2 separate regions of the Homo sapiens genome follow, and region 1 is linked to region 2. Evidence: fine-mapped expression QTL. A gene starts in region 2. The other region holds a variant in brackets. All regions are shown on one strand. Distances are from middle to middle. Region 1 overlaps NPR2 (natriuretic peptide receptor 2). Region 2 holds the start of GBA2 (glucosylceramidase beta 2).

Region 1 (4,387 bases), 58 kb after region 2:
CTACCCCGACCTGCCCACCTCCCTCTAGTAGATCTTGTTCCTCCTCTACCCCGACCTGCCCACCTCCCTCTAGTAGATCTTGTTCCTCCTCTACCCCGACTTGCCCACCTACGCCTGGTTATGCATTAAAGTTTACAACTGGTCTTCCTTGGTATATCCAGCTACTCTTGATACCTGGGTCTCAAGTCATGTCTTCCTAATTAGTAGCCAGGTATCTGAGGCCACCATGGGTGTTATATCATTTTGGTCTTCACCCAAGTTCTGTTCTCTTCACTAATCAAGAAGATTGACTGCCCTCTCCAGGGTAGTCATTTGTAGCTCCACTTATCCCTCTTTTTAAGCATTTTCCCTGTCCCTGGTGGCTGGGTGCCTGTGTCCTGCTTATGATACCAGGAACAGATGACTCTTCTGTTCTTCCTGCTTCCTTGGGTGGAAACTGCAAAGGATGCCTTCCAAAATCAGCTTATTATTTTTGTGGACCCAAGATCTGTAGACAGCTAGCCAGTGCCCATCTCATGGAGAGAGGGTATTCTAAGCCAGATATGATCCAATCCCATGACTTGATCTGTACCCTGCAGGGCATGGCCTTTCTCCACAACAGCATTATTTCATCGCATGGGAGTCTCAAGTCCTCCAACTGTGTGGTGGATAGTCGTTTTGTGCTCAAAATCACAGACTATGGCCTGGCCAGCTTCCGATCAACTGCTGAACCTGATGACAGCCATGCCCTCTATGCCAGTGAGGCCCACCCCCACAACCCACTTTTTATATTGCTCCTCTTTCCACCTAGGGATGGTGGGAGAGGGAGGTGGAGTGACAGTAATATAGGGATGAGCCCAGGTGGGCTTGGGGGTGCCCCATTTCGGGGGACCTGGCCAGCCGGTTTCCTCTTTTCAGAGAAGCTGTGGACTGCCCCAGAACTGCTCAGTGGGAACCCCTTGCCAACCACAGGCATGCAGAAGGCTGACGTCTATAGCTTTGGGATCATCCTGCAGGAGATAGCACTTCGCAGTGGTCCTTTCTACTTGGAGGGCCTGGACCTCAGCCCCAAAGGTAAGAGTCAATCCACTACCCACAGCCTCTTCTTCCTGGGGGAACTCTGTTCTTCATCCAAACCTTTGATCACCCTCAGAGATTGTCCAGAAGGTACGAAATGGTCAGCGGCCATATTTCCGGCCAAGCATTGACCGGACCCAACTGAATGAAGAGCTAGTTTTGCTGATGGAGCGATGTTGGGCTCAGGACCCAGCTGAGCGGCCAGACTTTGGACAGATTAAGGGCTTCATTCGGCGCTTTAACAAGTGAGAGGGCATTATGGGGCAGGGGCTTCCCAGGGATAGAAGACTCATTAGTCCTAGTGCATGAAGTGGGGCAGGTGGGACCAGAGGGTGGGTTGGATAGGAAGTCCTGGGAATCTTCAGAATCTTAGAGCAAGTGCCTTATCCTGGCCTCCCTCTAGGGAGGGTGGCACCAGCATATTGGACAACCTCCTGCTGCGCATGGAACAGTATGCCAATAACTTGGAGAAGCTGGTGGAGGAACGCACACAGGCCTATCTGGAGGAAAAACGCAAGGCTGAAGCTCTGCTCTACCAAATCCTACCCCAGTGAGACTTTGTCCCCCTTCCTGTATTTTCTTTTGGGATTCTGCTCTGTTGGGCTCTGCCTCATCAGGCACCTGAGAACTCGCCTCCCCACCCTCAGAACCCTGCTGGCCACAGGGAGCACCCCTGCTTATAGATTATTTGCTGTCATTCTGTCTCCACATCAGCTATGCTGCCTTCTTACTGGCTGCCCATCCCTTCTTCTTAAGACCCTGCTCTACCACACCCTTGCTTCAGCAAGTGTATGTAAAACAGTCCCAACTTGAGACAGCTCCCATGCACAGGGATTCCCCTCAAACCCCCCCGCCACTTGTGTGCCTTACCTTGCATTAGACTGTAATGTCTTCCCAGCCACTTTCCTCCCTCCCACCTGAAAAGCCTAGCTTTCTTGTTACAGCTCATCTCTGCTGCAGCCACATACACTTTCCCTCTCTCTTCCACTCCTGCTCTCTTGGAGTTTGGCTCATACGGCACCCTTGCTTCCTAGTTCAGTGGCAGAGCAGTTAAAACGGGGAGAGACTGTACAGGCTGAGGCCTTTGACAGTGTTACCATCTACTTCAGTGACATTGTTGGCTTCACAGCATTGTCAGCAGAGAGCACCCCCATGCAGGTGAGAGCCATGGGTGAGAGGTGGCGGGTGGGGTTGGGTGGGTAGGGACCTGGGGAAGCCTCATTGATAATAGGAAAGATGAGTTTGTTCTAGAGTTCCCACATCTTTTGATGGCTTGTGGGTTAAGAATTCTTAGAAAATTGGGCACAAGTCTCAGGGCCTCTGCTTTTCTATCCCTTTTAGGTAGTGACACTTCTTAATGACCTGTATACCTGCTTTGATGCCATAATTGACAACTTTGATGTCTACAAGGTGAG[AGCTGGGGCC/A]GCTGTTCAATAGAAGACCCTTTAATAGAGACCCGCTTTGAAACTCAGTCTCCCTGAACCCCACACACCTTACCCACCCCATGATCAGTTTTCCCTCCAGGGTACTCAGCATCCTGGTGCTGGAGTGTACTTCGTAGACAGATGTAGCTCCAGCACTATAATTGTACACTCCAGTCGAATTTCTTGTGAATCCTTTGACTTCCCTAATCAGAACCATCATGAGATTTAGCTCCTATCTTCCTGGAGTATAAATACAGCCTATCCAACATTTCTCTCCAGTCCTCTCCAGACATGGAAGAATCATATAGGATGTGGGTCCAGACTGATTTAGTGGGGTGAGGGAAAATATATTTTAAAAAGTAAAACTTTTTGTTGAAGTTATTGAGTTGGATTTATTGTCCTTGGGAGTAAAAATCATCTGGATTTGAATATTGGCTTGTTGCTAACTGTGTGGCCTTAGGTAAGTCACAGAATCTCCCTGAGCCTCAGTTGTTTTATCTGTAAGATGGGAATAATAGATTCGTTGTATGGAAAGTACCTAACATTGTTTGGCATGTGGCAGACTACTATTTAGGGATAACTACTTTATCCCTAAATACTTAGTGTGTATTTCCTAAAAACTTCACTGTGTATTTCCTTAAAACAATGGCATTTATTCTCTTACATAGCTTTGGCACAATTACCAAAATCAAATGCCTGCTTTCCTCCTCTCTGACAGTTTGGGCTGTCAGGTCCATTTCACTGGGCCTGCTTTACCTCCTCACCAGCCTCTGTCCTCTTGAGTTACCGTTTTCTTGCTTCCCATTTCCTGATGGCAGAGCCTATTTGTCCATGTCCTGCTGCAGACAGGGTGTTCATTCATTCCGCAAATGTTTACTGAGTATTCACCAGGTGCTGGGTGGAGAAAGAAGACTTAAAGATTCCCTAGACATCTCCTCTCCCCTAGACTCAGGACCATGGCACTTATTTTCTAGTCAATATTCTGGTCTCCAGCATGTCAGGATGATTAATGATGGTGTCAAGCTTGTCTCCCTCTACTTTTTCCCATCCCCATGGATATAAATAGAGGTGACCTTTTAATCCCCCTCTCAATCAGGTGGAGACGATTGGGGATGCTTACATGGTGGTATCTGGCCTCCCAGGCCGAAATGGTCAACGCCATGCACCAGAAATTGCTCGTATGGCCCTAGCATTACTAGATGCAGTTTCTTCCTTTCGCATCCGCCACCGACCCCATGACCAGCTGAGGCTACGCATAGGGGTCCATACTGGTAAGGCTGACTCTCACTCCAGCCCTAGTCTCCACCTTTCCCAGACTCTCCCAACCTGTTTCTTCTCAAAGGGCCAGTCTGTGCTGGGGTTGTTGGCCTGAAGATGCCCCGTTATTGTCTTTTTGGAGACACAGTGAACACTGCTTCTCGAATGGAGTCTAATGGTCAAGGTAAGACATTAGCCCTCAACCCCACTGTTGGCCTCAATTTATCTTGCCCTTTTCTTCTTTTCATAATCCCTCCAATTTCTTAATCTGAGAGACCACAGTTCCTTAGTGTCGCATCCTCGGGCATATTTTGGTTCTAATAGATATGCATTGGGAGGTTGGGCATATTTTGGTCCTAATAGATATGCATTGGGAGCTTCCCAGGGATGGTTGGTCGGGCACGGTGCTATACAGTATCACCAATTATTTGATTGCCTTTTCTTTGATTCCTCATTCCACCATCCTCCCCATTCCACCCACCCCAGCGCTGAAGATCCATGTCTCCTCTACCACCAAGGATGCCCTAGATGAGCTAGGATGCTTCCAGCTAGAGCTTCGGGGGGATGTGGAAATGAAGGTGATGGCAGGCCATGGGGAGGGGGGCATGGAAAGGGAGGGTGAAAGTGATTATGGGAATCATAGGGAAAGA
Region 2 (4,387 bases):
AGTAACTGCAATCTATGAGGACAGACAGAACAAAGGACTATCTGGCATGGAACAAGCACTCAATAAATATTTATTGAATGAGTGGACTCTGGCTGGAAGGGAGAACAATTGAAATTGAGTTCTTACGAAGGTAAGACCCAGAGAATTCTGTCTTGCTAGAGCTCCTGGTCAGAGTGCCCACAGTTCAGCTCCATCTTAGGAGCTCTCTTACTCCCTTAATATGGTAGCTGGCCATTCCTGACCTATTTGGCCTTCTCCACAATTTCAACCTCAACTCAAGAGTTATCACTTAGAATTCTTGTCTCACCTGTGCTTTCTCCTCATAGGAACTCATCCTATTCCAAAAGCCTTGTATCAGTACCCCCCACTCTATCCTGGAATGGGGAGCCAGGGTCCAGGGGGTTGAGCACAGCTTCAGGCCTCTATGACTCAGTTCATATTTAAGGGCTAAGAGGCTAGGATGCCCATCTTTTCTTGATCTCATTGTTCCTACCACATGCAACTCAGTGTACTTCTCTATGTACACTAGATCCTATTTTGATGCAAAAACTTTTGGGGTCAAACTTGGACTGAATTGATTCCAGAAGCAGCCTGGAGGGATGATTCTTCTCTGCTACAGGCTACCCACAGGCACCAACAAAGCCAGATGTGCAGGCAGCATCAGGCCCTTCCCACTCCCCAGGGCTAGGGTTAGATAACTGATCTCCCCATCACAGCCCCACAGCACTGACTGGGGAAATGAAGGGTCTCCTACTCTAGAAACTGTAAGGGCAGGGTTTCCCAAGCTTTATGCCTCCCTCCACAGTTCTGTGTGTATTGTGTAGACTGAGTCAGGATGACCTCAGGGTGATGCTTTCTGTCCTCACATCCACCTGTTCCTGTTAATGGGTCTGGCTCCTCATCACTAGTCTTTGAACTCAGTGGGGATCTAGATGGGTTCTACATCTATGGCAGTGCCTCTCTGATAAATGACTTAATATCAAGAGCTCTCTATCCCAGAACAGAATGACAGCACCTTCTCATCACTTCAGAGGTGAGGGCAGGGAGGCTCTTCTTACCTACTCCCTGGAGCTAAAGCTTGAAGAAAGAAGCAGTAGTGTTGGGACTCTAACAGTGTGTCTAATGAGGTACAGAGAATGCCCCAGCTGCTTGTGGGAAATAAGGGGTTGAGACCCCCCCACCCCCAAATAAAACAACATTGTGTTAGTATCACAGCAGCCAGATTATCCTTTCCTACCTTGCCACAAAGTATAGCTAATCCCAAAGGGAAGTCATTGGAAACCAGTATGTGAGAAGAGCCTGAATGGGAAAGGCTGATTGCATGACCAAATGTTCCTACCCTTTCCTTCTGAAAAGACAAAACACTGGGAGGGAAGGGTGTTGCAAAGAGATGTGACCTGGTCTCACGGTCCAAAACCACAGGCCTAAAATATGCCAGGGATAGGGACCGCTTCACTCAGACAAGAAGCCCAACTGCTTTCTTGCCCTTTCCCACCTCTGCTAGAAGTTTTGAGCTGGAACAAAGTGAAGCCAAAGGCATTCTAGGCAATGGGGTCTACTCACCTCAAGCCCATGCCTATATGCTTTATCATGTTGCTTAGGGAGACGTTGTTAGCTTGAAAGGGTTTCCTCTTCTCTGTAAACTCATGAGCCAGACAGATGCGCCAGCCAAAGGGAGGCACCTGGTAGCCCATAGCTTTACCCTCATAGGAAACCATCAGCTGCCCAGAGTCCTCCGGATTGCAGCAGTCCGTCTCTTTTGGGGGTCGGCTGTCTTCGGGACTCTTACAGTCTGTAACCTGCACATCCTTGGTGCCGCCAGTCTCTTCAGGGCAATAAACTTGTGGATCCTCTTTGGCACAGCTTATCTGCTCCGAGGCTGGGACGCCGGTTCCCATGTTCCCTGGATCCTGGGTCCCCATGACCTCGATGGCGCCAAGTCCCGAGCCCTCGGATACTAAGTATCTCGCCAGCCTATTCCAGATGCGGGCGCCGGTCGTTGTTAGGTATCGTCCCGGAGGGCCGGGCGTTGGGGAAAGCTTAAATGAGCTGGTGTTTCAGTGGAGCCGGGGAGCTCTTGCTTCAGTGGGGGCGGCGACAGCAAAGAAGCCGCCTTGGGCTCTCCTTCGGTTGTCTCTGTAGGTCCTGGACGGGAAGGGTCGGGCCTCGTCGTCATTGAGCCGACGATTAGCTCGCCCGGCCAAAGGGCGACTGGGCCCGCAGAGAGGGGAGGAGCCGCGGGGCCAGCCCACCAGGCACCGCCCCGGGACGGGCCCGCAAGGCACCGCCCCCGGGACCTCGGCCCGGCCCCTGGGCCACGGCACCGGGTCCCCCAGGATTGGGCGCCAGGTCCCGCCGGCCGGCTCCGGGGCAGCGCCCGCGCCCAGGTGCCAGCCCGTGGGAAGGTGACCCTGGGCGCCGGGATGACCCGAGCCCTTTCCGGTCTGGCCTGCCGGGCGCTTCCGGCCGGAAGGGACTCCGCGGAGGGTGGGGGACCGAAGGGAAGTCCCGCCTCTACCGCCCAGCGGACGCCGCCGCCGCCGCCGCCGCCGCGTACCTAGCCAGGTCCCTGAGGGGCGGGCAGATGAGGCCTAGGGGTGCCGATCCCTAGTGTCGACTATGCGAGGTGACTAGCGGCGGTGATCTTGGGCTGGGACGTGGAACTTTGAGGAAAGGGGGAGCGGAGGCCAGTTTGGGAACTCCGCGGGGGTGCCCAGGGAGAAGAACCCGTCGCACAGGGGCTGGGGTCTAGGGCCCAGAGCGATGTCCTCCCCCTGGGCAGTACTGAGTCTTCAGTCGCCTCCCTCCCACCCGCCTACCCCTCCTATATCCAGGAGCTCCCTCGGGCACCACGGTGCTGACCACCCCTGTCCTCAGCCCTCAGCCCTAGGTGCTCACCGCAACGCCCCTCCCTGTCAAGGTGCTGACCTCCGCCCCGCCTTGTTTCCTTCTAGATCTGATTCCGGAGCTGCCATGATTGAAGTGGTAGCAGAGCTCAGCCGGGGTCCTGTATTTTTGGCTGGGGAGGCGCTGGAGTGTGTAGTGACCGTCACCAACCCCCTTCCGCCCACGGCCACTTCTGCATCCAGGTGGGGATGCTGGCACTGAAGGTGGTGGCCCTTCTGGGAAGAAGCCAGATTATCTCTGGGGCTGAGGCAGAGCTCAGGTTGTCCTGTAGCGACACCACCTCCTCTTGCTCACTGTGCTGTCATTGTAGGAGAGGGCTCTTTAACAGAAGATGTGGATGACATAGCTGTACGCTTTCCTTCCCCTCCCCCGTTCCCCTTTTTACGCACAGTCTGCTACTCTTTATTTAATGGTTTCTCTTTGGGATTGTGGATTTCCTGATCACTAGGACAGCCATCTAACCTTGTTGGTTAAGATGGTGTGATAGGGAGCTTGGGAAAGCATTTGTGAGGTCAGGAACTACCTCTGATGCCTCCTTTTCCTTTTCCCACAGTGAGGCCCTGGCCTGGGCCAGTGCCCAAATCCACTGCCAGTTCCATGCCAGTGAGAGTCGAGTAGCACTGCCTCCTCCTGACTCTAGTCAGCCAGATGTCCAGCCCGACAGCCAGACTGTCTTTCTGCCACACCGAGGTTAGAGAGGGGCATTTGCCTGGGAGAGGGGGGGTGCGGAGGGTGTGTGTGGAGGCATTGTCACCCATGGGTGAAGTTGTTAATTGTTCTTGTTCTTATAGTCCCTGTCATGCTGGGGATGTTGGGGAGCATGACTATTGCTTTAGGGGTAGAAGACTATTCCCATTTCACAGCAGGGACGGAGGGCCTGGCAGCCTTTCACTATCTCCACTTGCCGTGCTAGTCTTGTTCAGTACTGGACAATGGGTCATTAAATTAGTCATTTTTACCTTTTTCAGGTGAGAGGGGCCAGTGTATCCTTTCTACTCCACCGAAAATTCTATTCTGTGACCTGAGGCTTGATCCTGGAGAGTCCAAATCATGTGAGTGATTGTCCCCATCCCTGAATTGCCTTCTAAGTCTCCTGGAGGGAGGACTCCTCTGGTGCCTCTGGCTGTCCTGACAACTACTTCCCAACCAGACTCCTACAGTGAAGTGCTGCCCATAGAGGGACCACCCTCCTTTCGGGGTCAGTCAGTCAAGTACGTCTACAAACTGACCATTGGCTGCCAGCGTGTCAACTCCCCTATCACTTTACTCAGAGTCCCTCTGAGGGTTCTTGTGCTGACTGGTAAGCAAGGGCTCCTGGAGGGAAGGGCTGGGGAAGGGCGATGCCAAAGCAGAAATTGTCTTAGAGGGCTTGCAAGAGGGACTGCAGGGAAACTTCCTGGTCTCAGTGACAGTGCTAGGGAGTTGGGAAGGGAGGGAGGGTTCTGGAGATAGAGATGTAAACCTCAGCCCTGGCACCCCT

What was found. PIP is the estimated chance that this variant, and not a neighbour inherited with it, causes the effect.
Region 1: its variant is the best candidate, but not a certain one, in a credible set for the expression of GBA2 in whole blood (TOPMed, PIP 0.90).

What each region holds. Positions count from the first base shown.
Region 1 is chr9:35,804,933-35,809,319 of GRCh38, forward strand. NPR2 (natriuretic peptide receptor 2) reads left to right here. Exons shown (of 22, transcript NM_003995.4): 13 at 579-738; 14 at 898-1,053; 15 at 1,133-1,301; 16 at 1,460-1,606; 17 at 2,091-2,214; 18 at 2,398-2,466; 19 at 3,577-3,751; 20 at 3,823-3,921; 21 at 4,224-4,315. It also overlaps a transcript of SPAG8 not described here. Among named protein-coding and RNA genes, the nearest start is that of SPAG8, 5.1 kb to the right of the region's middle. The variant AGCTGGGGCC/A (reference allele first, on the strand shown) is at 2,472.
Region 2 is chr9:35,746,783-35,751,169 of GRCh38, forward strand. GBA2 (glucosylceramidase beta 2) reads right to left here and starts at 2,446. Exons shown (of 17, transcript NM_020944.3): 1 at 1,564-2,446. The coding sequence starts at 1,922. RGP1 (RGP1 partner of RAB6A GEF complex) reads left to right here and starts at 2,505. Exons shown (of 9, transcript NM_001080496.3): 1 at 2,505-2,626; 2 at 2,955-3,089; 3 at 3,461-3,597; 4 at 3,876-3,959; 5 at 4,058-4,207. The coding sequence starts at 2,974. RefSeq lists silencers at 2,145-2,544, 2,665-2,714, 2,745-2,794.